Regions from separate parts of the Homo sapiens genome. Here regions 1, 3 and 4 are each linked to region 2. The links come from fine-mapping of genetic effects on gene expression. A gene starts in region 2. Each other region holds a variant in brackets. All regions are shown on one strand. Distances are between the middles of the regions. Region 1 overlaps APCDD1L-DT (APCDD1L divergent transcript). Region 2 holds the start of APCDD1L (APC down-regulated 1 like). Region 3 overlaps APCDD1L-DT (APCDD1L divergent transcript). Region 4 overlaps APCDD1L-DT (APCDD1L divergent transcript).

The links.
Region 1: its variant is fine-mapped to the expression of APCDD1L in transverse colon (GTEx, PIP above 0.99).
Region 3: its variant is fine-mapped to the expression of APCDD1L in monocytes after LPS (Quach 2016, PIP 0.95). The same link has a PIP of 0.9 or more in monocytes, monocytes after Pam3CSK4 and monocytes after R848.
Region 4: its variant is fine-mapped to the expression of APCDD1L in unexposed skin (GTEx, PIP above 0.99). The same link has a PIP of 0.9 or more in aorta, atrial appendage and sun-exposed skin.

The regions. Positions count from the first base shown.
Region 1 is chr20:58,568,419-58,576,520 of GRCh38, reverse strand. The region is part of intron 6 of APCDD1L-DT (APCDD1L divergent transcript); the gene reads right to left. Among named protein-coding and RNA genes, the nearest start is that of APCDD1L, 57 kb to the right of the region's middle. The variant C/A (reference allele first, on the strand shown) is at 4,088.
Region 2 is chr20:58,511,670-58,519,771 of GRCh38, reverse strand. APCDD1L (APC down-regulated 1 like) reads left to right here and starts at 4,373. Exons shown (of 4, transcript NM_153360.3): 1 at 4,373-5,113. The coding sequence starts at 5,065. APCDD1L-DT (APCDD1L divergent transcript) reads right to left here and starts at 4,393. Exons shown (of 7, transcript NR_034147.1): 1 at 4,032-4,393; 2 at 173-268. RefSeq lists an enhancer at 4,772-5,770.
Region 3 is chr20:58,538,981-58,547,082 of GRCh38, reverse strand. The region is part of intron 5 of APCDD1L-DT (APCDD1L divergent transcript); the gene reads right to left. Among named protein-coding and RNA genes, the nearest start is that of APCDD1L, 28 kb to the right of the region's middle. RefSeq lists enhancers at 521-1,022, 4,301-5,500. The variant T/C (reference allele first, on the strand shown) is at 3,240.
Region 4 is chr20:58,609,427-58,617,528 of GRCh38, reverse strand. All of the region lies in intron 6 of APCDD1L-DT (APCDD1L divergent transcript), which reads right to left. Among named protein-coding and RNA genes, the nearest start is that of LINC01711, 21 kb to the left of the region's middle. RefSeq lists an enhancer at 7,029-7,530. The variant G/A (reference allele first, on the strand shown) is at 4,976.

The sequences.
Region 1 (8,102 bases), 57 kb before region 2:
TTGCATAGGGTTCGGTGCTGAGTTGTCTCCATTTTACAGAAGGACTGAGGCTGGAGTCCACACGGCTCACTCCGAATTACAGAGCTAGCCGGAGGAAGAGTAGTGGTTGAGACTCCCCAGCCCGCAACTGTGACCCACGCTGGCCATGATTCCCTTGACCCCTGAGGGAACCAGCCCAGAACTGCCTGGCAGGGCCTCTGGGAGCTTGGAGCTCTTCTTAGAGACCCTGCCTGTCCCACTGATGCTGACGAAGAGGCCAGACTGTAAGGCGGTGAGGCGTGAAGCTCAATACCCATCCATGGGTCACACAAGCCATCTGCAGATATCTGCTTCCATGAGGCTCCTTGGATGGCCTTGGGGAGTTGATGGAGGTAGAGACGAGGGCAGCCTGGCATGGGGGGAGATGAAATTCCGACACTAAATAACCCAAGCGGAGCAGCTGCTCCATTTCTGCAGGAGCAGGATGTGAAATGAAGCATGAGCTTGGGGACGGCTCCTCCAAGGCGCCTTGTGAAGGACATTAACCACGCTGGAGCCCGTGCACTCGTCCCTACACTGCACACTATTGAGCACATACTAAATGCTAGCCTGTGCTAGGTGCTGGGACTAGAGACAAGCAGACAGAGGCCCTGCCCTCAGAAAGCTCTCAGTTGAGCGAGGGAGCACGGACAATAAAGCTAAGGTCCTGTCCATGCCAGGGCGACCTGTGCATGATAAAGGTTGTGACGGCAGAACCTGGTGTTCCAAGCTCCAGAAGGAGACTTAGTCCAAGATGCACATCCCAAACAGCAAACACGCCTTAGAGAAAGCAAAGGGAATGCCACTCTTTCACTTGCATCTTTTGATAGACAACAGTAAAAGCAGCATCGAAGGGAGCCCAATTCACAACACAGAAAAACATTTCTTATACCCTATTTTCTCCTCTCCCCCAACTCTGCCATCCCGCATTTCCCTGAGACTCTTATTTGCTTAACCTCCATCCCCAAAACTCACTCTTGCCCCAGCACTCCACAGCTCTTTCTTTTTCCTCTTTACTTTCTCTCCTAGCCCCCTTTTTTTTTTTTTTTTTTTGAGATGGAGTCTCACTCTGTCACCCAGGCTGGAGTGCAGTGGCATGATCTCGGCTCCCTGCAACCTCTGCCTCCCTAGTTCCAGCGATTCTCCTGCCCCAGCCTCCTGAGTAGCTGGGACTATAGGCGCACGCCACCACCTCCAGCTAATTTTTGTATTTTTTAGTAGAGATGGGATTTCACCATATTGGCCAGGCTGGTCTTGAACTCCTGACCTCATGATCCACCCACCTCAGCCTCCCAAAGAGCTGGGATTACAGGCGTGAGCCACCGGACCCAGCCTTCTCCTAGTTCTTTTAAATGTAGGTTTGCAGGCTCTCCCCAAGGAAAGGAAGGGGCATTTCTCTCCTCCTTGCCCCTTTCTCAGCTCATGCTGTGAACCTTGGCTTGTAGGAGGTAGCCATGCAGCTCAGTTTACCTGGCCAGTCCTGACATGCACCTGGTGCCCTGAAAAAATGTTTAATAGCTCCTCCTCTCACTCCCCAAAATGGCCCCGTTTGATCAATAAATTATATAGTCCCTCTATCAGTATATCACCTCCTGGTGAGGCGCATCACCTCCTCCAAGCCCTCTCCATATATGTCTCCTGATATCATCCTCTTTCAAGACAGCCTACACTTCCTCCCTCGTGGGGCTTCTTACTTTGAAATTTATTGTTTTGTTTGAGGTCAGGAAATCTGTTTCCTTTTCCACCTACACTGGGACCCATACAGTGCTTGGGACATTGTAACCACTAAATACATATTAGTGGGTGGATGGATGGATGGATGGATGGATGGATGGATGGATGGAGAGATAGATGGAGGAAGGGAATGAGGGAGGGAGGGAAAGATAAGTGGCAGGATGGTGGGTGGTGAGATGGATGTTTGGTGGGAGAAATGGTAGAAGGGATAGATAAATGAATGGGTTTTAGGGAAACCAGTCAGGAAGCTAGTGCAGTCATCTAAGGAAGATAAGGTGGTGACCTGGGAGGAGTTGAAGATGGAGATAAGTGGGTGATTTTGACATGTCTTCTGGAGATGGACTCAAATGGACTTGGCCATGCTCGGTGAAGAATAGACATGAACTCAGGCTTCCTGCTTGGATCCTGACCACAGCCTTCACTCCCCAAGCACCTTACCTGACAGGCAAAATCCCTACTGTTGCTGTTTCTTGAGGTAGCAGCTTACTGTCATGAAAATAGTTTCAGAGGCGAACTGGAATGAGTGACCCACACCAGTTCCAGGAAGCAGGGCCTGTGGGCTGGAAGAGGCAGGCCTCCAGAGCAGCCTCCACCGGCCTTGCAGGTGCCTCTCAATCACTCCTCCTTAAAGGCACAAGAACCCTTGCTGGTTAATAAAGAGTCCTTAAAACCCTCCAAAGGTGGAACACCACTCCCACGACACAACATCAAAAGTTAAATGGAAAATCTGGGATTCCATCTATCAGCACAGAGCTCAAGCACCTTCTGTTCGGAGTGAAGTGAGCGGCCACTCTGAGCTTCAGTTTGCTTCTGTGTAATACAGAGATCATAGCAGTACCTGTCTCCCAAACCAGTTGGAAGATAATGTGAGAACACGGTCACATAAGGCTCCAAGCAGTGCCTCCCTGACCCATGCGGCGACTGCTGTTTGTGCTGGGGCTTTATACACATATATAAGGACATATTTATTTTATCCCCATAACCAGCCTCCAGGTCGGTCTTTCTCTTTCCGGTTTGCTGATGAGGAAACTTATACTTGGAGCACCCCCAGCCTCCCTCCAGTTTTGTGCAGACAGCGGAAGTGGTCACTGCAGGCTCCACATGGATGGGCCAGGTTGCTGTGCCCGGCCTGGACAGAATCCGATGTGTTTCATTTTCTGAGTTGATCCAGGACAGGAGCCAGTACACTTTTCCTGCGAAAGACCAAACAGTAAACATTTTTGGCTTTGTAGGCCGTTGGGTCTCCGTGGTAACTATCAAACCCTGCCCTTGTCCCACAGAAGCAGCCATAAGCAAGACATCCACAAATGAGCGTGGCTGCATTCCAATAAAACTTTATTTACAAAAACAAGCCCAGGCCAACCCCTGCTCTAGCACAGAGAATAAAAATTCTTTAGGTGTACATTTTGCTTCAGATATCAGTTGTCGGGTTTGTACACGTCCAAGGGTTAGAATTGGGCAGTGAAAGCAGCCCATGTCCCAGTGTTTTCTGTGAGAAGGCATGTAGCGAATTCCTCCCTGACAGTTCTCCTGGGGAGGATGCTGAAGTGGGTTTTCTGGTTGAATGTTAAGCTCTCCAAATTGCTATGTCCGTGGAGATATTTTCTTCCTTCCCTCTCTCAGCATCTTTTAGGAAGCACAAACCACTCTTTCTTTGTTGGTGGGCGGTAAAGGCAGCAGGCCAGGGGATTGAGAGACAGGTCACCTCCCAGAATTACTCAGTGGCCACCATCTTAGAACCACTTTCTCCTGGGAATACATGCATGATGTGAATAAACGTGATTTTCAGTAGGAAGAAAGTTCAAATGTGTTCTCTAAAGGGGCATGTTACTTCTGGATGCCAACTTGCTTCTTAGAAATGTTTTTTCCGGCTGGGCATGGTGGCTCACGCCTCTAAATTCCAGCACTTTGGGAGGCCAAGGCAAGTGGATCGCCTGAGATCAGGAGTTCAAGACCAGCCTGGCCAACATGGTGAAACCCCGTCTCTACTAAAAATGCAAAAATTAGCCAGCTGTGGTGGTGGGTGCCTGTAATCCCAGCTACTCAAGAGGCTGAGACAGGAGAATCACTTGAACCCAGGAGGTGGAGGTTGCAGTGAGCCAAGATTGTGCCACCACACTCCAGCCTGAGTGACAGAGCTAGACTCCATCTAAAAAAAAAAAAAAAAAAAAAAAATGTTTTTTCCAGAAGGCGGGGCTAGGGGGTGGTGAGGCTACGAGTAAACCTTAGGTCTTCTGTCTTCTTTCCATTGAGCTAGTGGCTTCCAATGCCATCATGCGTAGGTAGCAGGAAGGAATGGGGTGGAGGAGGGGAGCTGAAAACGGATTTTTTGGAA[C/A]TCTGGGCACATTTAGAACAGAATTGTAACTGTATAATGTTATGGTATCATTTAACTGACATGTCTACTTTGGAATGTTTATAACTACCGTAAATCAAGAGGCCACCAAGCCAGGGCAGCGGCCACACGTAGACATTCCAAGGAAAACGTATAAAATAAATAAAATAATCACACAGTATCAACATTCCATTCCTGGCTAGAAAACGGAAAATGTAACTGCCCCTGCAAAAATGCAAGCGCCCAGAGATGAATGTGCTCGGAGCCGAGGCAGCTGGGGCCTCCTCACGAGTGCTCAATAAAGATGTCAAGTGGGAAAAGGTTAGGAAGTCAGTAAGAACAAAATGTTTGACCCAGTCGAGCAGTACTGGCCCTGCTACCTTGGTTTGCGAGACCCTAACATCGGCATTCCTCCTTATGGTCTATGGGCGACTGTGATTTTCTGCGTTGCGGGGGCATAGTCCAAACAGTTTTTGTGACTTCCCTCTTTATGACTTCTGTCCAACTTACATTATCTAAAGAAAAATAAAGATTTGTTATCCCCAAGGCATAAAATTCTACAGATTTACAAACTGTTGGATTTCTGACCTTAGTGATTGTTTTTGGGCTTAAACTACTTTTCTTTCTTGACCAGTGGCTTGTAAAGCACACATCAAAATGAATTCTGGCTAGATAAACATCTGGTCATTAAAACTGTGCAGGTCTTTGGTTTGAAGGCAGCCGCTGTAGCATTCTTAGGACACCTGGTACTTCTCTTCACTCCAGACTCTGGGTGCATGACAGCAGAGGCCCAGCCATGAATCCTAAAACTGTAGGGTTTCTTTTTGTTTTTTTAAGTGGTAGCAAAACTCTTTTGAGCCGTCTTTCTTGTCTTAGAGCCTTTGAGGTATGTACAAGCTTGGGTAATAAAAACTACCAAAAGTTAAAAATTAATAACCACAGGGACTCCTCACATCTTGGAGGACTTTGAAGCAGTCTTTCTCCCAGGAGAGGATCTTTGCTTTCTGACAGCACTGGAAGAAAATGACCCAGTCGTTTCCCCTAAAATTAAGAAGACTGTTCTGAGGTATTTTGTAGACATTCCGCTTTTGTCTTTTTGAGTTTAATGTTTCTTTGTTCATCGAATGAGGAAAATGGACAAACTGTGGATTCTTCAGAGCTTGGATTTGGGGTAGGGAAATGCATTTTTTTCCTCTGATGGCCTGAGAAAGGTTTAGAAAGTTTAAAGGTACTAAAGCCCCCAAACCCACAGAAAAAAGAATTTCCAAGGAGGGCGGTAAGAGTCGCAGAGACAGGGCACACCCCAACCATTTCAGCCTATAGGTGAGCTGAGCTTCCTTCCCCCTGGACCTTAATTTGAGAAGAAAAAAAAGAAAAAATCTTCAATCTCATGATCTAGAATTCATATTTTTAGCCCAGGACAGAAATGCAAAGGATAAGTGCGGCTATTCGACCAAGTCTCCCTTCTTTCTTGGTGCTTTTCAAACCACGTTGGTTCTGAGAGTTCTTTCCACATCTCTGTGGGCTTGGGTTGTAAATGCCTGGCTCCTGGGACTGTCAGTGGCTGGTGGGGGGTGGGGGAGGGGGGCTGGGGTCTGACTGATGACCCCTACCTTTGGAGCTTCTCAAATGAGGGTTCCATCCACGATCAGCAGACGGCAGTGCTCTCTCCCCTCTGGCCCTCCCCTGAACGCTTTGCTCCCTGTCCATGAATGGGAAAGAAAGTATGCCTGCCAAGTACTCCATTTCCAAACAGAACAGGCAGAGATATCGCTTGCAGAATTCCAGATGTTGGTATTTGTATTATTGGATCACAATTACATTTCACAAAAATTACTGCAAAGAAAAAAGAAATGACTGCTCCCTAGAAGTGAGATTTATTGTCCGTTTCTGTCCTTTGTCTGCCTCCTCGCATGGCCTCATCTCTCACTGGGCCTCTGGTGATTTATTATTTCGGGGACCCCAGAGGGGACACAGTACTGCCTTTCTGTAAAGGTCACGTGGTGAAAGCCAGCTTTATCCGGGTCAGAAATTGCCCTCAGACACCAAGGGGAAACCCTGGATGAAGTTAATCAACATCCACCCCATGGCAGGTCGGTGAGCCCACGCTGGGCGGGAGAGGATTGACCTCGTGGTGGTCGGACCTTTGCACCACCCGCTCCTCTCCAGATGAAGACATTGATGTTTTCATATCATTTGTGGTTCTGATCTGATCTCCCCTCCCAGAAGAAATCCTAAAAAATTAATGCTGTATGGAATGATGCTTTCAAAAAAAGTCATTTCGCTTAGGCCTTTGTTTTTCTCCCATAGATGAGGGGAGGGGGGACCTCACATTTCTCCATAGCCAGCCCCTGATCTGCAAGCTGAGGTCCCAGGGGTGCCCAAGTGGGAGTTCAGGGCCTGTTTAGCATGACCACCACGCGGACAAAAAGGTAAAGGGAGCCAAATGGCAACTCGACCTTGCCCCATTCTTCCGGTTACGAGGCACCCGCAGGGGTTGTCCGAGGTGACACTTCTAAGCTTTGGCAGCCTTGAAACCCACTGCCATACCAGCCACATCTGCGAGGCGACTACATGACCTTGGAGGAGGGAGGGAGTTTCACCCACACTGTGCTGGCCAGGACCCACGTGCACACACTTCACGTTAACCAGCCCACGGCACTACAGGGAGCATCTGCAGGAAGACTTTGTTCCGAGTCAGAGGGCCCCCAACCCCCCCAAACTTCCCTTTTTCTCCAGTTAAAGGGACACAACCAGGTAGGTAGAGCTGCCCAGGAAAAGCCTCTTACGCAATGACACGAGGGAAGTGGTGTGAGCAGTAGAGGGTTCTTGCAAATCGTCCTTAATTCCATTAATAAATGCCTACAAACCCCAAACGCAGCGTTGCCCCTTCCTTGGCTTAGGAAAAAGAGTTAAGAAAGATCATCAGCAGAAATGTGCTGGCCTATGTGGGTCTGGGTCTGGGACTGGGTACCCAGGGCCGGGGCTGGCAGCCTTTCATGGAACTAAGCTGGAGGCCCCAACTCCCGGGCACTCCGGATGGAGCTCTCCTGCGGCTCCCAGCACCCCGACGGCATGGGCAGAGGAACACGCCGGGATCGGTACAATTATGGTGACTGACTGTCTGCAGCTCGATATTAATCTTTCAAAAAGGCTCTGCTTTGTAGGGAAGGTATTAGGTGGCTCCAACAACTTCTTAAAAACGTTCCTCTTTCTTTACAGAATGTCAAGTGAGATTTCAAGGGGGAATACTTCATAACCCAGGTATGTTTTCCTTAGGGCAATAAACCGCCATTGAATTTACACGCCTGCCCCCCAGACCTCTGGATTTCTAGCCAAAACCTTCATCTGTTTTTCAGAGAAAAAAAAAAAAGGTTGGGGGAGGTGTTTTCTTCAAATGCACGGAAGGCCTCTCCTGGGTGGCAGAAGGAAAGTTAGGCAAACTTTATAAATCTAGCGGGAGAGCTGTTTTTGGCAGTGCTGGAAAGTGGAGTGGGGTTTTTCTGTCGGCCTCACTTAAAACATCACCAAGCGGGCCCCCCGACGGCCCCGGTGTGCGGAGGGGTGGGTGGGCGCCCATGTGTGGAGGAGGCAGGCTGGCTGTGGCTCTGGACAGCCACCATCCTGTCTCAGCCCCCACAAGGAGGGTAGAGTGGGAGAGGGTGGGACTGCATGAGGAGGGAATGCTGGAGTTAAGTAAGGAGCAACAGCTGCAGTCCCGGGGAACAAAACGAGGCAGGACCCAATGGATTTCTCATCAACTGTGTGGGAGTCATTGGCAAAGGGAGGTGTCCGCACACCCCCAGCTCGACCCCCTCCTGCAGCAGCACCAGCAGGGAGACCCCACAAGTGCGGCAAGCTCGGTGCAGAGATGACCCCCATCCATGGCCGGTGGCCAGGAGGGTGGCAGGTGAGGGCTCTCTGGGGGAGGAACGGGTATCTTGGGAGACCACAGCTGTGCAGCTGGGAGGAACAGCCAGGGGCCGGCGCCTGCTTTCTGCTGAGCGGTGGGACTCGC
Region 2 (8,102 bases):
CCCAGACAGCCCAAGGTATTTCCACAACCTGCCTTCCCAGAGGCAGGTGAACAAGATGCCATTCAAGACCTAGGTATTTTAGGTTCAAGCTGAGGAGCCAGTCTTTCCAGCCCGGACCAGGTTTCCATCCAGGCTCCATTGCATACCAGCTGTGTGACCTTCAACTTCTCACCATGTGGTTTCAGGGCCTCAGAAGACTGGATCCTGCACCCAGTGCTCAATTCCTGGACATGGTCTTCTAATTCCTACAGGGTGGCACAGCTTCATCCTATTTTACAGAGGAAGAAACAGATGCAAAGGGAATTGCAGGGCCGGGACTAGTGGGAGGCACCCAGGGCTCAAACTATGAGAAGGCATTCACCTGGAGGGGCTATCTGCACCTATGCCCACCCAAGAGTGAGTGCCTATTACATGGTGAGCCCTGGGAACAAGTTCGCCTCCCCCTAGCACCGGCCATGGTGAGTGGCTAAGTGGTAGCATTATGATTTGAAGTCAGGTCTTCTGATAAACCCAGTGCTCATTCTGTGATAGTTCATTTGCTCTCTCATTAATTCACTCAGCAAACGTGCAGCGAGCCCCCACTATGCACAAGGCATGTGCTAGGCTCAGGGGTGCACCAGGCATTTCTGAAGGACAGAGACTTGCTTTCTCTGCCTCAATTTCTTCATCTGTAACATGCAGGTTGTTATAAGGATCTGGTCGACTCTGGGCCGAGCCAGCATGCTCACTCTGGAGGCAGAAATGGTCACCAAGAGGGGCCCAGCCCACCCTGGCCTGTCCCCTGCTTCATCCAGAGCTACCCCTGCCTACCCTTCTTGGCCCAGGAGGCTGCCTGGATGTTTATTTGGTTATTAGATAACCAGGCCTGGGCACCATTTCTTTGATCAGTTACCCCTGATAACAAGCAGAGGAAACAGACCATTTTATAGCAAGATTTTGTGGGGTGATCTTATGATCCCATGGTGTTTTTAACAGGGACAAGGATGAAGAGGTAGGCATTTGGAGGGGAGGGGGAAGGAAAAGAGGCCCTGCTCTGCAATACTTTCCTCCTGATTCCCCCTGGACTTTGATTCTGGGGGAAGGGGTGGTGTGGGAGATAAACGTGGAGCAAGAAGGCTGGGTCCCACTCACAGACATCTGACTCAAGGCCGCTTCCCTCACACCCAGCAAGACCCCCTGAATCCTCCCAAAACCTCACCCGCAGCAGCTCTGACCACCCAGCGAGGGCCCCTGCAGTTAACAGCCCAGGAAAGCCCAGCTACGGAGGCCAAGATGCGATAATGCCCACAGACGTGACTTAACGGCCAACACAGAGCTGAGGCTTCTCCCCAAAACAGCCTTATGATTGCTGCCGTTTCAAAAGCTCTCAAGCGATTACTCGGTAAGAAAGAGGTCAGGAACCAAGCGTATATCACCCTTCCCTGAGCAAAATGCAAGATCTGGATAACATAACTTTTTTCTTTTTTTGATTAAAAATAAATATATGTTTGAAGACAATAAATGAGTTTTAGCTTCGGTTCCTTCTTTTGCTCTTGTTTGATCTGCTTGTGAGTTGAGGACAGCCTTGTTCAAACACTATTTGTCCATTTTCTTTGCTTTTTTCTATTTGTGGGGTAAAATCTGTGTTATCTCAACAGGGTCAGCTCACCTGCATTGCGCTTCTGTTTCCTCACCTGGAAAGTGAGGAACGCTGGACCCGTCAGTCTCCAGTGCCCTTTACAGCTGCCCACACCCTCCCAAGTGTCGCCCCATCACAAGGGTGAGGATGCAGCAGGCGCAGGGCCCACCTGTAACTCTCAGCCTCAACAGCTGGGGTTTAGCTAGGATGTAGAAAAAGCACTTTTTTTTTTTGAGACAAGGTCTTGCTCTGTCACCCAGGCTGGAGTGCAGTGGCACAATCATAGCTCACTGCAGCCTCGACCACCCAGGCTCAAGAGATCCTCCCACGTCAGCCTCCCGAGTAGCCGGGACCACAGGCATGTGCCACTACACCTGGAGGATTTTTGTATTTTTTCTAGAGATGGTGTTTTGCCATGTTGCCCAGGCTGGAGAGAAAAAGTACTTTGGAGTCGTGTTTCCCCCATTATTCACACACCTCTTCGAAAAGAAGCCGTTATTATAAAACAGGCCTTTTCTTTTGGGGTCCTCAGATTTGGAAAGGAGCAGAAAACCCAGTGAGACAGGACGTGTCCTGGAGACACAGCGCGGTGGTTGGAAGCAGGGATCCGGGAGTTCTGCCACCTTCCAGCTGCCTGGCCTCAGGACAGTGGCCCAAACTCTCTGAACTCAGTTGCCCCAGTTTGTAAAATGGCCTGACCGTAATTCCCACTTCTTGTCAATTTGTTCAGGTATAAAGTACATGCATATAAAGTACTCAACCTAACTAGTGCCTGGCCCATGCCACAGTCTCAATAATTATCAGCAAATCCTCTCATTTATAAATAAGCCAGTACAACTATTAATACACAAGCATCATACTTTGTGGAAAAGTTCGTATCTCTAACAGCAGTACAATAAGTTCTGAAAATACTGAATTATGACCCTATGTAGGACATCAATGTAACACCCATTCTCCCCACAAAATGCCACTAATGCGTGAACCCCCATCAGCCGCCTGGGACTTTGAAATACCCACATCCGGAAAGCCCAGAGACTGAAGTCTCAAATGATTATGGCCAGAATAGCATGTAGTTTTAACTTTTTTTTTTTTTTTTTTGAGATGGAGTTTCACTCTTGTCACACAGGCTGGAGTGCAATGGCATGATCTCAGCTCACTGCAACCTCCGCCTCCCAGGTTCAAGTGATTCTCCTGCCTCAGCCTCTGGAGTAGCTAGGATTACTGACGCCCGCCACCACGCCCAGCTAATTTTTGTATTTTTAGTAGAGCCGGGGTTTCACCATGTTGGCCAGGCTGCTCTTAAACTCCTGACCTCAGGTGACCCACCCGTCTGGCTCTCCCAAAGAGCTGGGATTACAGGTGTGTGCCACGGCACCCGGCCTTAGCATGTAGTTTTTAAACTACCCATAATTGTAAATTTTGTACATTGAAAGACCCATAATTGCCACAAATAATCACAATTATGCAAGTATAAATAATCACCCTGCACAACTCTCCTCTTGCCCACAAAGTTATCCCTTTCATGAGAATTTAATATGTGACAATGGCCATTGTCTGCCAGGGAAAGCTCATACCGATTTCAGTTTCAGCAAGGCCACCTCGAGTCTCATAGAAACCAGAAAAAAAAAATGTCATTTTCAGGAAGCAAATTGATCGTTTTCCTCACATTTCCATTTGCGTTAAGATCATGGTGTGGCCTTGCTCTGGACTTTTTCCTATTCCCTGTTGCCTCTGGAGAGGAGGAAAGCTAAGGATGGCTGGTGGGCCCACATCGGGGGTCCCTGGGTGGATTGAAGGGCTCTTGTGGCTCCTGGAAGCCTCGCCCAAGTTTCTGGTAAGAAATCAAAAGGTGAGGTGGTGTCCCCTGTTCCCCTGTGGGATGATCAGCCCACAAAAGTGGGACAAATGAGTCTATAAAATGCTTCAGAGGGGCAGGTGGACTGCTCACTCGTGAGTCCCGGGAAACAGGCCTGGCCCAGTTCTCCAAACCTTTCCCCAGGGAGACCGCATCTCTGTCTTCTCTCTTCTTCTCTCTTCTCTCTTGTTCTCTCTTCTCTCTCTTCTCTCTTCTCTCTCCCCCTCCCTCCTCCTTCCTGGTTCTCTTTTTTCTGTTGATTTCACTCCCTCCTTTCTTTTCCCTTTCTCTTTCCTCCCCTTTCTCTCTCTTTCTCTGCCTGTTTCCCCTTTCCTCACTTTCATTTCTCTTTCTGTCTCTTTCTTTCTCTCCCTCTCTCAGGTCTCTCTTCTCTGTCTCTCTTCATCCTCAGTTTTCCCCTCTCTCCCCTCTTACTTTCTTTCCCTTTTTCCTTTTTCTTTCCATCTTCTTCCTCTCCCTCTCTGGGTTCGTGGCAACACAAGGAAACCCGCACATCCCCAGCCCGCAGCCTCGCCCCCTCGGTCCCACTGCAGTTACCCGGTGATCCATGCAGGTGGGAACAATCCAGTTAACTTTTCCCATCCGAGTGATTCTCTTTCTCTTCTTCATTCATAAATGCCATAACTCTCCCGGTCCTCCTTTCCAAGGCTCGTGCACTTGATTTCAAGGCTTGCCTGCCACCCAGGGTGCCACCAGAGTCCCAGTGCCTGGGTTGGGGGCTGGAGCGCACCCTTTGGGATCCCCCAGCCTGTCCTCCGCCTCACGGCTGCCTCGCTTCTGAGCTGCCACCCTCAGCTGACTCACTCAGATGAGATTTGGGAGGGAGGGGGGCAGGAGGAGGAGTTGCGAGAAGGAGGAAAACCCGCCTGGTCGGGTCCACACTTTGCCTAGATGCGTTTGGGTGTGGTGGGGAGCGGGTGACGGCCTCATTTACAGACAGAGGCCGGGGCTGGCTTCTAGGCGACCGGGTTGGCCACTTTCACTGCGCTTCTGGGTTTGCTGGGATCCAAGTTGACGCGACTTTTCCAGGAGTAGCTGGAAGACCTGAATAGAAACTTCAGGGGTCCCAGGACTGGCGGGGCTTAGAGGAACTCCCCGCCCCGCTTGCCCTTCCAGGGAACGGCCTGGCTAGGGGTGCGCTTTGACGCAAGGAGCGCATCGCTCTGCCTTGGCCGGGACCAGAGCTTGGGGGAGGCCTCCTTGCCCACTGCGAAGACTTTGGGGAAGGCGACGGCCAGGGGACGGACATCTGGGGGAGGGCTGGGGGTCTGAATGGCAGGAGCTGCACCAGGGGGCTGTGCGCGCTGCGCGGGTGTGCGCGCCTCGCCGGGGGCTGTCTCCACCTCTTCTGGCAAGTTGGACCTATGAGTGCGCAGCTCCGCTTACAACTATCAACAGCCGGGAAGGCTGAGCGCGTGTGAGCGCCGAGGGGGGCGCAGGACCCTCGCAACTTCTTCGCAGGACTCCAGCCTGGCCGCCGGCGCCCGCAGCCGTCCGAGAGCCCTGCGCCCGCGCCTCCCCTTGCGCACCGTGGCAGCGCCCGGCGGGCGGTCCTGCCAGCCCCGACGGGATGCCCGCAGCCATGCTCCCCTACGCTTGCGTCCTGGTGCTTTTGGGAGGTAGGTGCCACCCTCCCCCACCCGGCAAACTGGCTGAGCTCGGAAGGGAGGGAGCTCGCCGTCTAATGTCCCCTAAGGGCCCTTGGGGACTACGGCCCTGGGTCGGCCCACGCGGCTGCTATGCTGCGCCCTGCGCGCCTTTCTCCAGTCTCACCTGGCCGGCACCTGCGCGCCTCCAGGAGCTTCCTGGGGCCTGCGGGAGGGAGTCGCGTCACCTCGCAATATGAGAGCCGCTGCACTCTCTGCGCCAGTCGGGGCCTGGCCTGTAGGTACCCAGAGCTGCCCTTTGTGCCGGGCCCAGTGGGACCGGGGCCTCCAAGAAGATGCAGGAGGATCCCAGGCCCACTGAGACCCCCATGGTGCGGGACAAGCCCGGCTATTCAGACCAAGGTTACTGGGGTTGTTTTTGCCCACGGAATCCTGACCTGTGCGGGGTCGGGGCTTCTTCCTGCAGCAGGACTCGGGGAGAAGCTAGGGAGCGCGCAGTGACCCCAGGCTCGAGTTGTGCCCAGCAGGCCTGACAAAGGGGACCAAGGGGCTTCAGGAACCCCTGGTAGAGTAGTCAATGCCTTCTCCAGGACTAAGGGGTTCCCTGGTGGCTCTTCGTGGGGGTGGGGAGTAGGGTAGACAAAACTGTACAAAGGCCAGCTGACTGGAGTGTGCCATCACAGGGGCCCAGTCACCACTGACAAAAATGACAGTAACCACAGTTGAAGTGTGCCCAGCTGGGGGCTCATCCCCAAGCACCCTCACATTATGAATGGCTGAGAATTCTGGCCCTGGAGTTAGACCACCTGGCTGGGAAGCCCAGATCAACATCATATCAACCCGTCTGGCTTTGGGTAAGCATGGCCATCGGCTCTCTCAGCCTTGACTTTCTTTCCTGTCAAATGGGCTCACAAAATCCCCTCCTCCGTCTGGGATGATTGTGAAGATTACGAGAGCACGTGCAGGAGGATCACTCCACTTGCTGCCTGGCACTGAGCTCATGTTCAGGGAATGGCAGCCGAGAACCCCGGGGTGAAGAGGGGCTGCGCGGTCCCACAGAGCACGCTCTGCTCCATGTATAGGCAAGGAGCAAAGTCTAAGTCACCTCGAGGAGCTCTTCAATCACAGTCTTTTCTTCCCAGCCCCCAAATTTCTAAACAAGCTGTTTTGAGAAGAACTGGCAGGGGTCTGAAGGAGGGTCAGGGGAGGGTGCCTCCGCAGTTTGAAGAGTTGCAGATTCACCTGTCGAAAGGGACATTCATCCAGGGGCCGCTTCCCCTGCCAGTCTGGGAGCGAGAGGTGACACAGCTGTCCTTGGCCACAGAGTTAGTTGATCATCAGCATGAAAATAGACCACCTCACCCCTGCTGGTTCTTTCGAAAGGGCAGGAAAATGCAAACTGGAAAGGGTGACAAGGGGGCCAGCTGTGGAAGCGCGCCTCTGCTGGGTGCTGAGATAGGGAGGACAGGATGGGGAAACCGGGTGTCCATCTGCTCTCATCCGCCTCCTCCAGGCCGTTGCACCCAGTGGGAATGGAACAGTCTAGAGTGGTGGGACACATGCCCCAGGAACCTGCAGTCTCAGTCACAGCACATGGCTGTTGTCTTTGGCAGGCCGGAGCTTCCCGTCATGCCAATGAAATCACTGTGAGTGTAGAGCCGTGGCTGGCTCTTGGGGAGTCTTGCTGCCCAGCTCCTCGGTGACCTTTCACCACAGCAAATCAGACAGATTCAACAGCAGAGAAGCCAAGAGTGCCCGGGGGCCTGACGAGAGAGGGGGGCAGCCTGCCCTCAATTCAGACACAGCCACCAGAAAGGGGGAGGGTGCCGTTCAGCCTGCCACTGCAGCTCCCAGCTCTACACCGGGCACTATTTTCCACTGAACGCTTCTTTGAAAAGCTCTTTTCACCGCTGGCTACATCACCAGGTGATGAGATCCTTTTGCTTTAGTAAAAGGAAACAGGACCCAGTTAATCCTTCAGCTACTGACATAATTTAGGTGCCTGAGCTGGGCACGCCTGAACTTCATGTCTCCAGGTTCCAGAAACTATATATATAATGGCACACCAGCCACCCCACCAAGAGAATTCAGATTGAGTACACACACGTTAGGGGTTCTTAACCTCGCCGCTATTGACATTTGGCACCAGAGGATTCTTTGTTGGGGATGAGGGGCCCGTCCTGTGCATTTTGGGGTGCTTAGCAGTATCCCTGCCCTCTTCCTACAGATGCCAGTTGCACCTCCTCCTAGTTATGATAACTGAAAATGTCTCCAGATATGACCACATGTCTCCAGGTGATAAAGTGGCCCCCAGTTGAGAATCACTGGTATGAACAGATCAAACCCAACAGGTAGTTTTTCAGACGAATCCGTCAAAATCACTGGGTTAGACGGATTTTGTTATTCTTGCTCTGAACGATCAGGAAATCAAAGGCACAGTGGGGCCCCAAGAAAAACAACATAGCTTAGGTAGTTTCTAATTTGGACGTTGATTTTTCCCATTTGCTCTCCCTCCCTCTTGTATCTGAACATGTCCGCATGGCGGCCGCAGGAGCCAGGCTGCGGTATGGGTAGTCACCCACTGCAGCGAACCTTCCTTCAAACCCTGTCAGGCCAGATGTGTCTGGTGCCAGTTCTCCAGCTGCCAGTGTTGGTTCACTCCACAGCAATTTCTGGCTTTTAAAAATCTCATTACTCAACAATTTATGCTGGAGGGGGAAAATGAGAAACCATAGCTGCTGCTTTTTTTTCGAACTTGTATTTTTTTTTTCTAATTTCAGCTCTGCTTTTATCTCTCGCTATATACTTTGCGATGGCAAGTTATCATTTACAGTCAGATTAACTAGGTCAAAATCACAAGCTATTCCATAATAAATTAGTTGATGTGGAGCTCTGCCTTGAAACCCAGAATAAAAACTAAGAAGAAAATTACTTAAATACACTCATCCAAAAATCTAATGTGAATAGAGACCCGTAATCGTATTAGTTACTTAAAACAAAC
Region 3 (8,102 bases), 27 kb before region 2:
TGATAAGTCTCATTTTGTAACTGAGGGATCCGAGGCTCAGCGGGGTCGGGAGGCTTGCCTCAAATCACCCAGCCATAAACAACAGCCCCGGACGTCAGCCAGGGTCGCAGGCTCCCAGCCTGTGGTGTGTTTCAACTAATCAGTTACACTGATTAAATGCCCGGTGGGGGTGGGTGGGGGGCAGCTGCCGGGGCTGGAGAGCTGGCCCTAGCCAGGCCTCCAGCGGCTCCTTTCTGGGGAAGTACAGGTCATGTCAGCCTTGCTTTGAATCCTGCCCCAGTTTTCCACCAAGGAGCCCGATGGCAGCAATGAAGGAGAGCCCCCTTCTCTTATCACCCTACTCCTGTAAGAATCCTATTCCACCTAGAGGGAAAAGAATAGGCAGTGAGTCCACTCAGGTCATCTTGAAGGCAACCCAGGGAATACGTGGCTGACTCAAGAACCCTGGACGTCACAGATTGGTGCCGATCACATGCAGACCACCATTTTACCATCAGGGCAAGCATCAATTTTAGGGTACCATGTTAACAAGGGCACAGATGATGCCAGAACCCAGCTGTCCCCAAAATCCTGGCACAGGGCAGAGCAAGCTGGGGCACACCGTGGGCACTACAGTTGAGAACCTGAAGGAATGAGCCAGGCCCGCCCTGGCTCTCCAAAGGGTGGCCTTCTCGGGCGCTCAGCCTGATTTTGCTCAATTTCTCCTCCTGCCTCTTGTGCTAAGTTAGAAGGACAGATGACATCATTCCTCCTCAGGCCCATTAACCACATGGATCGATGGCAAGAAATAAAATTTGGATTCTTCAAAAATCTCCACAGCAGATGGCCCCAGGAGACCAATTGCAACGAGATTCCTAATTAAATATAATTAAATAAGCATTAAGAGAGAGACTGATGCTCCCCTCTCCACATTACACCACTCTGTGCCAAAGAGTACAAAATTGAGAACGCCATTGTCCGCAAAAAAGCCACAAAGATCATTCAACTCCAGCCTCTGATGACCGAGCTGGGAAAACTGAGACCGGAGGGGCTACAAATTCAGCCAAGGTCTGCAGGATGTGGGGCTGACGACAAAAAGCTGACTGAGAAACTGACTCATGCACAAGTGCCCATTCTGGGGTCATGTTGTTAGCATCTAAAAGGCCCGGACACTTGCATGCTGGGCGGCCTTGGGCATGATCCTTTAGTCTCTGGGCCTCTTTTTCTTTCTTTCTTTCTTTCTTTTTTTTTTTTTTTAACTGAGTCTCACTCTGTCACCCACGCTGGAGTGCAGTGACGTGATCTTGGCTCACTGCAACCTCCGCCTCCCAGGTTCAAGCAATTCTCCTGACTCAGCCTCCTAAGTAGCATGCCACCACGCCCGCTAATTTTTGCCTTTTTAGTAGAGATGGGGTTTCATCATGTTGTCCAGGCTGGTCTCAAACTCCTGACCTCAGGTGATCCGCCCACTTTGGCCTCCCAGAGTGCTGGGATTACAGGTCTGTGTGTCTTTTCTTCTTCTAAGATCAGTGCCTTAGAAGTATGATGTGAATCACATCCATAATTTTTTATTTCCTAGCCACATTTTCAAAAAGTAAAAACAAATGGGTACACAATCAAAAGAATACAATTTTCGTTATACATTTTATATCACCCAAATCCCAGCATGTAATCAATATAAAAGTTATTGAGTACTTAACACTTTTTTTTTTCACCTCAAGTCTGAAATCTGGTGAATGTTTGACATTTACAACTTGTCTCTGTATGGACTGGCCACATTTCAAACGCAGTAACGAATGGTGACCATATTGGCCAGTGCGGGTCCAGAAGATGGGCCTGAGATAGTCTCTCACAGGTTGTTGTGAGTTGGGTTTTGTTTTTGTTTGTTTGTTTGTTTTTAAATAAACATGATGTGGCTGGGCATGGTAGCTCAGGCCTATAATCCCAGCACTTTGGAAGGCCAAGGTGGGTGGCTTGCTTGAGCCTAGGAGTTCAAGACCAGCCTGGGCAACATGGGGAGACCACATCTCTACAAAACTACAAAAAATACAAAAGAATTTAGCCAGGCGTGGTGGCATGTGCCTGTGGTCCCAGCTACCCGGGAGGCTGAGGTGGGAAGATTGCTTGAGCCCTTTCAAAGGCAGAGGCTGCAGTGAGTGGTGATTGCACCACCGCACTCCAGCCTGGGCAACAGAGTGAGAGTCTGTCTCAAAAAAAATAATAAAATAAAATAAACAATTAAGAAGATAAACATGATGTGAAATGTGCTTAGCAGCATCCTCACGTCTCATTAGCACCCAGTGAATATTAGCTACGATGATTATCAGAAAGCCAGTGTCCACACAGTTCATCCAGAAAGCACGACAGTCCATGGCTCCTATTTACCAAATCTTCTCTTTCAATTCCCTTCCACAGACACAACCCCTAACAGAACAACTGTGGGGGGAGGGATTTCTTTAGTCTCTGGGTAAAGCTATCAAAAACAAATGGCGGCTTCTCGAGCTCGCCCTTAAAGCAATCGGTGGATCCCAAGATTAAAATTCAACTGCAGCCAAATTGTGTTATAAACGGCTTCACTCCACCTGGGGTCTGGACGCCAGGCAGATGTAATCCCCTCTCCTGGGCATACACTGATGGAAACCCCGCCTCACTGCACCAGCCAAAGCCTTTAAATCAGCCGTTATTCCCGGCCTGACATGAGAGTTACAACAGGGTTTTACAGGCCCTCTGCAGGGCTCTCTAAATTTTGTGGCCGTAGCTTCCTATGGCTAGCAATCCAAATAAAAATAGTGCTATTGATCACAAAGGCATCAATAACGTCAGCCCTAAAGCTACCTGTGCACATTTCTAATTGTCCTGTCCTTTTTATGTCTTTAAATATTACCATAAGCTCTGAGAGATTCGCTACCTCTGATTGGGAAGAAGGAAATCACCCCCTCCGCTCAGTCCCAGGCATTGGAAAGCAGTGGGGAGGAAAACTCACGCGCTAGGAATAACTGTGAAGTCCCTTTTTGTAAAAAAGAAAATAAAACACTGGCTCCCATGTTGAGCTTGGCATTATAGTTCGTCAGGAAATGCCGCCCAATTATGCCTAATTTCTCATTGTTTTTCCGACCGGTTTGCGTCCCAGCAATTACGCCTCGTTCGCAGTAAGAGAAAAGTAAAATGCCCAGCTGGTAGACTGATCAGAAAGCCGACAGCCAATAAATTAATCAAGAAATAAGGAATGAATGCTGTGTTTGATGTTTGCAAATCACACA[T/C]GTGGCTCTCCAGATGCTTGGACTTAATTTTTACCACCACAAAAACCAAGAAAGAGGAAACTGGGAGTGACTCCAGCAGCTAAGCAAACCCTCCCCAGCAAAGCAACTGTTCAGCTACCTCTGGAATCTTCTCACCTTCAGCATACTGCCAAGAAAAAAGAGCACCCCCACCCACCCACAAACCCCCAAGAGCCTTAGGCATGAACCTTTCTGGGGTCCACGCAAGTGTGTGCAATGTGGAAGAAAATTATGGGCTCCAAAATTCAACAAGAAAGCCACAAAATCAAAATTAATAAATGCTTCATTAAACGCCTGCCAACTATAGCAGTGCAGCCTCCTCACTGCTTGCTGGGTGCTGTATTGATGATGTCGTCGTCATAAAAACTGCATTACGTTTGAGAAAACCATTGCAAGAATGCCTAAGGATGCCTATTGGTTGTGGGGCAAATCACAGGTAATTGCAACTTTGATGAATTACCTGCTGCTAGATAATTTAAGAAGCAAAATCATTAAACTCCTTTCAAATATTTTTACTGCAAACAAACTATAGTTAGTGTGGGCGTATTTTAATTCGTTTGATACGATGGGGAACAAGGCTGCCAAATAAAACACCCCCCTGGACCTAACAAGAGGCCAAGGTGTGTGCAGGCTTAGGCCGCTCTTCAGGTGCCCCCCGGGGCTGGGGGCCCGCTCCCTCAAACAGGTAGCTCAGGAAGCCCTAGCCATCTGCAGGGATCCGGTGGCTGTGTTCCAGTAAAGGCCAGCAAAACATGTCCAGTCTCCAAAGGGGACGGACACCATCATCTTTGGCATTCATGTCACGCTTCAAAGGCCAGAGTCCCCCGCTCCCCCTCCTGCAATGAGCCACCCGTTTCTGCCGCTGCTCTCCTGCGTGTCCACGGCTGAGGGTGCGAGCTGGTAATTACATGCTCGCTTAGGCAGGGACGCTTCCAAGCAGCGCTGGAGAGCTGATTAACCACCTGGTTTGTGGGCACAATTCAAAGGGGCACCTGGGAGGCAGGCCACAGTGACTCGTAGCACGGTTGCCAGGCGGATGTGTGCACAAGGGAAAAAAATGCTCCCGTGTCAGGACAGCTCCATGCTCTGCCTTCCCAAGGTCTCACCCACTCAGCCAAAGACCCTGGCACTTTGAAGGTTCCCTGTGGACATGAAGGCACCCTGGAAAGGGCTGTGGGACCAACAGCTCCATGAATTGCCACCAGGGTGATTTTGCGCCCTCTCACCCAGAAGCATTTGGCAATGTCTGAAGACATTTTTGGTTGTTGCAATGGGAGAAGGGGCTGCTCACAGAATCCAGTGGGTGGGAGCAGGAAGGCTACTAAACCTCCCGTGATACACAGGTCAGTCCCCACCACCCCAGTGACTCAGCCCCAAAGATCCGTCCCCACCACCCCAGTGACTCAGCCCCAAAGATCCGTCCCCACCACCCCAGTGACTCAGCCCCAAAGATCCGTCCCCACCACCCCAGTGACTCAGCCCCAAAGATCCGTCCCCACCACCCCAGTGACTCAGCCCCAAAGATCCGTCCCCACCACCCCAGTGACTCAGCCCCAAAGATCTGTCCCCACCACCCCAGTGACTCAGCCCCAAAGATCTGTCCCCACCACCCCAGTGACTCAGCCCCAAATGTCAGTCGCACATCAGTTGAGAAACTCTGACTTAGAGAACCATCCAGACCCAAGCGGCCTGCCTCTTGAAGAGTCTTTCCTGGGGACTGCTTACAACTCAGGAGGGCAGGAGAACTGAAGGTGGGGGCCCTGACAGTACACCCAGGTCTCCAGGCTGGAGGAGAAACTGTGTGGGGTCTCTTGGGTTAGAGAAAACCTCCTTTTTTTTGGCAGCCCTTGGAGCTGGATGTATTTTTGATGGAATCAGACCTCAAATGAGGTTGTGAATCACCAACTTCAAGAAGAAAGAGCTCTCCCGTTATGCCCATAAGTTAAAGACGAGGCACCTTAGTGCTCTCCTCAGGAGCCTCAAACCTCCAGCGATGGGTTCCCTGTCTTTTCTCTCTGTGAGCAACATTCCGTCCTTTCATGTAGATTTCCCTTTTAAGGAGAGTTGGTTCTGTCTGGGGCCAGTTTAGATTATTTTTTCAAATAAAAGAACATCAGAAAAGATTAATCATAGCCCGAAATGGAAAGGGACGAAGCTGCAGCCTGTCGTGACCTTCTCGTTTGCTTCGTGATAGCCTGCCTAGCCTTGGATGGAGGCCGGGGCTGGAGTGGGTGGTGATTTTTTCCAAGTGGCCCTCAGCTCTGAACCTCACTCACTGCAGTGGCTGTGATAACTTCTTGGATTTATGAATAAAGTGGCAACCTTAAAAATATTCGTTTGGAGTTTCACAATGGAAGTAGTGATGATCAACACATTCAGCCACTGTGTGATCAGATATAATTTGGGGGCTGTTGGTGGAATTGCCTTGTGTTGGCAAAGGTATGAGATTAGCACTCTGAAAAAACAATAACTAATTCCCGTGTTCCTAGGAGCAGGGTAGATATTAACTCTATTTTCCAGGAGATGAAACTAACATAGAAAGGTTAGGCAAGCTTTGCCCTGCTCCACAGAGAACTGGCCCTGGAGTGGAAATTAGGACCCCAATGTTGCGGGCACCAAACAAGGGATCAAACCTTCATCCACATGACAAATTACAGCTTGAAAAATCCCTTCATCGGTGCTCAGGCCTGACAGCACCCCATAACCACTGATTCGAATGGAAATAAGGATGGAGAAGAGAGGAGAGGGCTGCAGAGGAGAAGGTGGGAGTGGGGAGGGCCCGGATTCCCAGCAGGCATGAGAGTGTGTGAGCTGCACTGAGAATTTCCCCTGATGCGAACCTCCAGCTTTTTTCTAGTTCCAAACACCCTCCTTGTAAATAGGAGGATCTGAGAAACATCTCTGGAAGCAAAGCCCCATCAGCCAATTCCAGGGCTTACAGCTCGGCTGCAAGATGCAAGGAAGAGCCACGATGGATGATTCTTAATGGTGGGAGAGGAGTTCTGAAAAATGACCCTTTGCTTTCTTTCATAACTTTTCAGGAAACGCTGCACAATTATCCTTCTCTTTCCTTGCTTAAAAGTTGAACTGAGCCATTAACCTCAGCAAACGAACACAGGAACAGAAAACCAAATGCCGGATGTTCTCACTTGTAAGTGGGAGCTGAACAATGAGAACACATGGACACAGGGAGGGGAACAACACACACTGGGGCCTGTGTAGGGGGATAGTGGGGGAAAGCATCATGATAAATAGCTAATGCATGTGGGGTTTAATACCTAGGTGATGGGCTGATGGGGGCAGCAAACCACCATGGCACACGTTTACCCATGTAACAAACCTGCACATCCTGCACATGGATCCCGAAATGTAAAATTAAAAAAAAAATTGAACTGAAATTAATTTTTTAAAAAACGAGCTAGTTGTAAAAGAAAACCATAATGTCCCACCAGTGGGTAATTTCTTCTTGATTAAAGATGGGGGCTGTTGATAAAGCTGATGCCCACTAACTTCATAACAAATGGAGATCCATGTCTCATGCTCTTTTATGACTTGAGCCTCGTCTGGATGGGTTTTCCGTGCAAGGAGGGAACATTTTAGGATGTGATTTTTCTTGTAAGAAAGTGGAACAAAGTAAACAGGAGTGGGATCACTGGGAATTGGGGGATGGGGGTGGGTACCGTGGATGAAGGTGGGTACCATGGTGGATCAGGCTGGCAAACCCCAAAACCTCTGAGGAAGCTTAACAGACAAACAGACATCACGTGGAATGAGGCAGTACAAGTATACAATGACAACTCTGATGAATTCTTGCCAAAAAAGTCAAATATGAACATCATCAAACTTCTAGATCTTACTGAGAGCTAGCTACAGGTTTGCAGGACACACAGGGGACAGAGGAACATATCAGAAGACACCATCCCATCAGCAAAATCAAGATTATGGCAAAGGCTACAGGATGGGTGATATGGTTTCCAATAGAAAAATAAGAAAATAAAAAAGGGAATGGAGATTCACTAAAGATTTCCAAAACCAAATCAACCAAATGCAATGTGTGGATCTTCTTTGGATCTTAATTTAAACAAAGCATTTATGAGGCCATCAATGGAATTGCAACATTGACTGGGTATTATATGATATTTTAAAATGACTGTCCATTTTTGAGGCACAGTAATGGTATTACATTGTAGTGAATGACTTGTGAATGAAATGATAGGATGTGTTCACTTTAAAATAGAGGTGGGGAGAGAATATGGGAATTCAGTGAAACAAGATTGGCATGTTGATAACGGTTTAAGCTGGGAGATGGTTACATGAGAGTTTACTATATGATTCTATTTTTTATAGACTCAAAAATTTCTGCAATGAAATATGGGAATTTGATGAAACAAGATTGGCATGTTGATAACTGTGGAAGCTGGGAGATGGGTATATAAATTTCTGCGGTGAATAATTAAAAGAAGAAAAGGTATCTAGAGATGGCAGGATAAAGAGACCAGCATCTATTTTCCAATGATTGACTGCTATAGACACCAAACTTCTCAAATGTCTGCAAGGGGCAAGTGACAGAAACAGGGATAGAGCAGTCAACAGTTCCAATAGGGCCCTGCCCTTGTGAAATTCAGCCTGGTGGGAGACATAGACGATAATCAAATAGTCACACAAACACATGACTGCACAATGGTGTGTGTTAGAAAGGTGAAATAGACAAAGCACACAATAGCATGGCCTAACTCAGTTTGGGGTTCAGGCAAATTGTCATTAGTCATTGGTGCAACCCTCCAAATATCTCAGTTCTCTCTCCTTCTGAGTACAAGATGCGACTGAACTTCCTGGCCCCTGTGG
Region 4 (8,102 bases), 98 kb before region 2:
TCAAATCCAAACCTTGAAAGTCCCACCCAGTGGGGGACTCTTGCCGCCTTGAGAGAAGCACAGCTGATGTACGGAAAGCAATATTGTAAACATAACAAATAAATACAAATCAAAACCACAAGAGACCATGTGATGCCCATGGCTGAAATAAAAAAGACAGACAATAACAAGTGTCGACAAGGAGACAGAGCAATTGGAACCTTCATTCACTGCTGATGGCAACATAAAAGGTGCAGCTGCTTTGGAAAAGGATCTGGCTGCTCCTCAAAAAGTTAAACACAGAGCTACCACATGACGTACTATTCCACTCCACTCCTAGGTGCATTCCCAGGAGAAATGGAAACATAGGTTCACACAGAAACTTGCAGACAAGTATTCATAGCAGCAATATTCGTCCTAGCCAAAATGTAGAAATAGTCCAAGTGTGCATCAGCTGATGCATCGCACCAACAAACATGGTTCATCCAGATGACAGGGTATCATCCAGCCACAAAAAGGAAGGAAGCGGTGATCCAGGCCACAGCATGGATGAACCCCGGAAATGTTATGCTAAGTAAAAGAAGCCAGACACAAAGGAGCACATATTGTATAAATCCATTTACATGAAATGTCCAGAATAGGGAAGGCCATAGGGACAGAAAATAGATTTGTGTTGGCTTTGAGCTGGAGGGGAGGGCAGAAGCAGAATGGGGTGACTGCTAACGCAATGGGCTTTCTTTTGGGGGTGAATGCTCTAAAATATAGTCTGATTATGGTTACACAGCTCTGTAAATGTACTGAAAGCCATCGCAATGGGTGAATTGCATGGCCTATGAATTAGATCTCAATGCAGCTGTTAGAAACAATGGTGGGTTCAGGTCTGGACTCAGCCACTTCCTCGTCTTGTGACCTCAATGCTCCTCTCTGAGCCCTGAGTCCTTCATGGCACAGCCACGAGATCTGTCTCGAGGTGGTTGTGGGAGATGAAATGAGATACTCCACAGAGAGGACTTGGCTCCCAGCTGGGCAGAGAGCGAACCCTCGGTCCACTTACACAGCACCTATTCAGGGAGTGCTTCCTGACATGCCCGGGGACTGGAGAGGGACAAGATAGGGTCTTCCCTCTCACACTGATCTGCATGGCTGGCCCACACCTCTCAGTTCCTCAAACCTTCCAAAGAACACCAGCAATCAGAGATGCTGGGTTGCTCCATCACTGTTGGCCAAATGACCTCGGGAGAGGAGAAGCAGAGCAGGGTTTGGGGAGCAGACCCCCACGTCTGACAGCATACCAGCTCAGAGCATGGCGAGAATTCCAGCACAAGGTGCACACATTTTTTTGCCCATGGCTGTGGTGACCCTGCTGTGTGCCAGCCTCAGCCCCACAAGGTCACCTGAGCTATGTTCCTGGTCCCAGCTCACCCAGCCTCTTCAAGGAAGCCGTTACCTGCACCGTTTGATGGGTTAGGGCCCCTGAACCCAAACATAGCCCCTTGATCTGCCTCCACCCCACTTTCCTTGCCAGGTCTCTAAGATCTAGCATTCCGTGGGCCCCTGCCCTGCCTCCATGGCCCCAGAAGTGCCAACCATACTGGTGCCATGCTGCCTCCAGCTCCGAGCTGGGGTGTCCTATACTCAGCCAGTGGCTTCTGCCTCTCCCCTGGTCCTTTCCCCCTTTCTCTCTCCCTTTTGCATGGAAAGCATTTCACACTCATTCCTCTAAAAACAGCGTCACGGTTGGGCCCAGGCACCAACCTGAGCTCTCCCTGCCCACCTGCCTCGCTGCTCTTGGTCAGAGGAAACACATTAAGGAGAGGAAGAGCGTGTGGACAGCTGTCCTGGCTACTCTTTCCTGTACTTCCCTCAAAGCAGCCCAGCCCTGGCCTGTTGGGCCGAGGAACCGTTTGCACCCTGCAGACAGTGGGGATCCCAGGCGTGGGTTCGTGCTGCCTGCATTCTCGGAGTCCACAGGCCCGGCGGACACACACATAGTGTCCATGATGACCAGGAAAGCACACCATGGTCCGTTGTGGGGCTGTGGGTGGTGATAGTGGGGAGGGGGGGTACACTCTGGGATCAGCTTGACTGTGGGTCCCCTGCCCAACGGCCGTGAGACGCTGGCTGAATGGCTGGGCCACTAAAACCTCTGTTTCTTCATTGGTGAAATGACGATGGCTGTTGTGAGGTCACAGTGAACAAAGGCAAGCAAAATGGCTTCGCCTTGCACCCGGAGGACACTCCGGTGATTGGCAGCACATTGTTGATTGACACATATACTGCTGAGGTGGCACACACAACCACATGGTCCGTGTCTCTCATTTCTAAACAAACATGAGCTCATGCAAGGACCTGGTGCCAGGCAACTTGGATCTAGGCCCACAGTGAAGAGGATCCTGGGGCCAGAGGGGAGACGCGAGGACGAGGTAGGGGCTCACCTGCGCCAGGCACAGTTGCAAATGCCTTACGTATACCAATCACCCCCTACTCCCCACTGTGACTCTACAGGGGAGGCACAGCCATTAGCCTCATTTGACAGACAAGAATGGTGAGGCTCAGAGAGCTGAAGTCACTGCCCCAAGTCACAGAGTGAGCTAGTGGCAGAGACTCATGGAAGTTGTCCTCCAACAGAAATCCCAAACAACATGGGCTCAGGTCCGAGGTGTACTGCTTAGGAGCTTGGTGGCTTTTGGGGTGCCCCTTGCACTCCTGTGCCTCAGCTTCCTCACCTCGGGACAGAGGTGCATGTGCCCACTTCTGACTGAGCCTCCAGGGTGGAGGAGGATGAAGGGCTGCAGGGCTGCACGTTGCATATACCCCAAAGTGGCGGAGCATCCCTACTGCCTTCGGTGCCATTGGAGCACCCAGGGACGCATGGGTGAGGCAGTGAGCCGCCCGTGTAGCCTCACCTGCTAGAGACGGGAGCACATGGAGGCCCTTGTGCGGCCCTGAGCAGTCAGGTGGGTCACCCTGTGAAGAAAGGGCAAAGCAGCCTCACTAGTGACCCCGGGACCCAGGGAGGCTCCGTGCACAGGCTGCCGGGGCTACTGCTGCTGCCGGAGCCCCTCTCCCAGGCCAAGCCTCTGCCTGCTCCAGTGCGGATGTATAGGCAGATGTGTGAGGGTTGGGCTGCTGAAGTTAGGGCTCTCTGAGGCCCCTGTCATGTCAGGGCGGCTCCCAAGCAGCCTGTTCTCTGCTGCCAGCAGCATCTCCCACCCCACCGTGAGGCTGCAGCTCCCTCCTCTCATGCCCCTAAGGAGACAGGCACCCTGTTCTTTGCGTGTGCTAAAGCACCGCACCCCTATTTTTGCCTAGCTCACTCCCGCTTATCTTTCCTCCAGCCCCAGAAGGGCCCTGTTGACCCCTAGCCCCATTCTTTGCCCCCAAGACACTCTGTCCTTTCTTCCCTAGCTCAGGGCTGCTGGGAGAGCCTGATTCGTCGTCTCTCTACCCACTAGACTGCAAACTCTGAGGGACTTGTGTGTTGGGGTCTCTGGGCCCCCAGCATCCAGTGCTCTAGGAAGAATTGTGGAAGGACAGGAGGCAGTGGGGAAGGAAGGTTTCCTCTCATACCAGCCAAAGCCAGAAGGGCCCAGTGAGTGTTAATCAAAGAGTCCTCCCTGGAGGAGGTGGCTGATGGGGCCTAAGAGGTCTGGGCCCAGCCTCAGGACCCATTGTCTGCTGCTGTTGCCCAGCTTCATGTCTGATCCCCACACAAACCCTCCTGCCATTGACCTCTCCCGGGGCTGGGGCCGACACAGCCTTGGGCCACTGTGTCCCGGGAGAACCAGGGCCCGTGTCAGGCCTTTCCCTCCTTTTCACCGGCCTCATCAGGGCATTTTTGGAGAAACAAATTCCCGGCATCTCAGGGCTGTGGGCTGCTGGCGGCCAGCTTCCTGGTTTGCCCAAGACTAAAGCAGGCCCAGGGGCCTGGCATCTAATCTGGGGACCCTGATGGTGTTGGCCGGCCGCGTAATTGGCATGAGGTGGCAGCGGCAGCCACTGTGCCAGGGGACAAGTCCATGAGGCTCCTGAGTACCTGAAGTCCGGGCCTTATTTAATTTTGTCCTTTTCAATTAAAATCACCCCTCTCTCCCTTCTGCAGAAACAGACAGGCTCAGACAAACATGGAGTGAATTTCGTTCCAAGATGGTTCCCCACCACCTTTTTTCTTTTTCTTTTCCTTTTCTGTTTTCTTTTTTCTTTTTTTTTTTTTTTTTGAGGCAGGATGTTGATCTGTTGCCCAGGCTGGAATGCAGTGGCACAATCTCAGCTAGCTGCAGCCTCAACCTCCCGAGCTCAAGCAATCTTTTCGCCTTAGCCTCCCAAGCAGCTAGGACCACAGGCATATGCCACCACGGCTGGAGAATTTTTGTATTTTTTGTATACACAGGGTCTCACTATGTTGCCCAGGCTGGTCTCGAACTCCTGGGCTCAAGTGATCCTCCTGCCTCAGCCTCCCCAAGTGCTGGGATTACAGGCATGAGCCATTGCACCTGGCCTTTTTCCCATTTTCTTTCCTGAGTACATATCTCTAACCTTTCTCCCTGGAACATTAATCAGGGTCTGTGCTCTAGGAAGCTCCCACCTCTTCTTCCCTCTGTCCCTCTCTTCCTTTTTCTTTTTTTACTAGGGAATGGCCAGTGGCTGTGTCCTCAGAGGGTGGGGAGGGAGAAGCAAGCACCACACGCGGTGAATACAGCTTCAAATATCTGGAGCTTCGGGAAGCCAACGCCATCCAAATGGTGTCTTATGTTAAAGCAATAGAGGAAAAGTGAGAAAACTTTTCTACCTCCACCTCCCACCCAGCCCCCTCCTTAAAAGGAAAAAAAAAAAAGGTTTCTGTACACTCAAGTTCCCACAGTGATACAATGTAAGTTTTTAAAACAACACAAACATTGACCTTGGCAGATGGCCCCGTGGAAAGAATAGGCATTATCGACACAACGGAATGACTTAAGAAGACAAGGTGCCTCCCCAAGGAAGCAGAGAACATGGC[G/A]GCTTTGCAAGAGTCTATTCACAGGACGCCAGAGTCAACAGGCCCTGACCCCTGCGGGCCTGAGGGGGCCCCAGACAGCCCCTCCCGCAGCCGCCTCCTGGAACTCTCTGCCCTTGGGTCCTCAGGGTGCCTTCACTTGTTGATTGTGACCTTACGGATTTAAGAACCCAGCCGGGGTGTGCTTTCCGCCAGGCACGGGGGGCCACAGTGGCACCCTCTGCCCCTCAACCTGGCGGGGGACACAGGCACGCTTGGTGGCCAAGACTTCTGTCCCATTTAGGATTGAGGAGCAGATCCTGGGGAGCTAGCCAAATACTGTTAGCTGATCAGTGAAAGCTCTGGTCACTAGAAAAGAGAGAGGGAGGAAGAGGGAGGGAGGGAGGAAAAGGGGGGAAGGAGGGAGGGAGGGAGGGAGGGAGTCTTCCTCTCAAGCCAGCATGGGTCCGAAATCCAGCTCTGCCCTTTCTAACCATGAGACCTTGCAGGCGTTCCTCAAACCACGTTTGTGACACGAGAGCCAGTGACAGTTCCTGGCTTGCGGGTTGTTGGAAGGCAAAAAGGAAGCTACTGCTTTACAAACACACACTTAGGTCAGAGCCTGGCCCAAGGCTGGCACAGTGACTGTTTTACCATGGGGGAACGAGGCCAGGAAGGCATGGCAGGCAGGTGGCTCCAGGTGGGACCTGAGGGAGGCCTGCAGGTTCTGGCCGGGGGCTGTTGGCAAGAGTCCTGCCCCAGGCTCCAGCTCTCTGGAAGTGAATGTGTGTTCCCTCCATGCCCTGGGAGACACCAGGCTGGGCCAGAGCCAGTCCTGGCCTCATGGACTGTCTGCAGCACAGAGCATTTCCTAGGACCTCAGGGCCAGGAGCCCAGGCCTGTACTCATCACCTCTAGAGAGGGGGAAACTGAGGCCCAGAGAAGTCGTCACCTGCCCAGTTCAAGCTCAGTGTCCCCCACTGGCTGGAGACAGCCAAGAAACCCTGTGCAGCCCCACCTCCCTCCCCTGGCACCTCCACCTGGGGGCTCAGTGGCAGGGTGCATGCCACATGGTCTCCAGGCCTGTGCCCCATCCAGCCACGTCCCAGCCAGGCAGGGTGCTGCTGTGGCCATCCTCTCTGGGGACCGGGCAGAAGGAAGTTTCCACAGAGGTGCTCTGAGCTCACAGAGCCTGAGGGCCTCCCAGGCCTTGTCTAGTCGTCAGCTCTGATTAGTGCCACCTGTCCTGTTTATCCGGATTTGCTGCCTAATCAAATCCTGAGTCCCTTAGTCACCTTGCTTACGCGTCCAGAGGCAACAGACAAATTTTAGGAAAATGCTCCTTGCAGAGAAATGTAAGTGCCAGGGCCTGAGCAGTGTTGCATTCCTGTGCCCTCTGAAACCTCCCAGGCAGAGTCCTTTCCCTGGGTCCTGGGTAGGGGTTCCAGAAACTTCCCTGAGATATTGACACAAAAGGAATCTCTGCTGTCAGTGTCTACAGCTGTAAAATGGGATGGCAACCGCAGCAAATGACGAGCGCAGCCAAGGTCTCGGTGGGCTTCATCCCCACAACAAGCAGGTACTGAGGGCTGGCGGGGCCCTGGACTGGGAAGTGGCGGGCAGGAAGCAGGCAAGACAAAGCCCCCAGCCCATGGAGCTTGTCATCTTTCACGGGGAGAAGGACAGGAAACACGCACACAGAGAATGGTTGTTCGTGATTAGAGCAACACAAAAATGAAACAGGGATATGATGACGAGAAGACCTGGGGAGGGGAGGGGAGGGCGTGTGACGTCCACTTCACCCTGGATGGTCTGGGAAGGCCTGTCAGGGGAGGGGACGGTTGACTGGGGGACTTGGAGGCTGAGAAGGCCCCAGCCACGGGGAGAGAGTTCCAGGCAGTGGAATGGCCTGTGCTAAGGTCCTGAGGCGGGACAGGCTTGCTGTGTTCTGGAGCAGTGGGTGGCCAGTGGGCTGATGAGCAGGGATGGGCGGGCAGGCTGGACCACGTGGGGCCTCGTAAGGTCTCCGTGGGATCCCAGGAGAGCGAGTCTTCACTGTGGGTCCGGACCAGGAAAGCGAGGGGCTCACCGTCTGGGAAGTCGTGTGAAGGGGATAGACTCCTCCCTCCCCACCTCAGCCAGGTCAGGCATGGAGAGGGTAAGGGGGCAGCTGGCCGCAGTGGCCCAGGCTCCCTGCATGTGGAGCTGGGTTATGCATGGAGGACACGTTGCTCTGAAGTCAGTGCTCAGATAGGGGTGTTCCATAGAGTCCTGAGCACCCTGCCACTGTGCAAAGTGCTTCACGTGCTCGGTTGGTGCTCCTGCCCTAGGCTGGCACCCGGCCCCTCCTCTGGAGCCCAGGACAGCCCTTAGTGGTTGAGGCTAGAGCCAGACCAGATGCCCAGGAGAAGCAGTTAGGGGCCAACCTTGAACCTCACCCTTCCTTACAGTTTCCCCTCAATGAGCACCATTGACCCCCAAGTTCCTTGCATGTCATAATTAACAATCTTAATCAATAATAATCATAGCTTGCATTTACTGAGTGTTTACTGTGTGCCAGGCACTGAACTACACATACCACACAAATCAACCCATCTAATCTACACAAAACTGCACGAGACAGGTGCTCTAATTAGCTCTGCTTCCAGATGAGAGAAACTGAGGCACAGAAAAGTCAAGCAACTTGCCCAATGTCACACAGCTGGCAAGTGGCAGAGCCAGGAAGGGACCTCCAACAGTATGGCTCCTAAACCCAAGCTTGCAACCAGTCCTTCCTCTGTGACACCTGCTGTGAGTAGTAATAACAGCAAAGCAGCTGAAGTTTGCTGAGCACCTGCTGTGTTCCAGGAACCATCTTTGTAAGCTTTTGCCATTCTTCACCCCTGCAAGGAGGCTTTTAAGGCATTTTTTCCTAATAGCTCTCTCCGATGACACTTTAACGCCACAGGTATACTGGGTGTCTGTTTAGGTACTGTTCAGGTATCCATGCTTTAAATGTAAAGAGTAAAATATGTTTTTCCCCCTTGGGAAGCAAATTCCGTCCTGTTGGGACTGCATGCTCTGCCCAGATGAACTCATTCATTCCTCAACAACTCCATAGGTGAGGAGGATGATGATTCCTGTTTTGTGATGAGCCTGAGGTTCAGAGAGG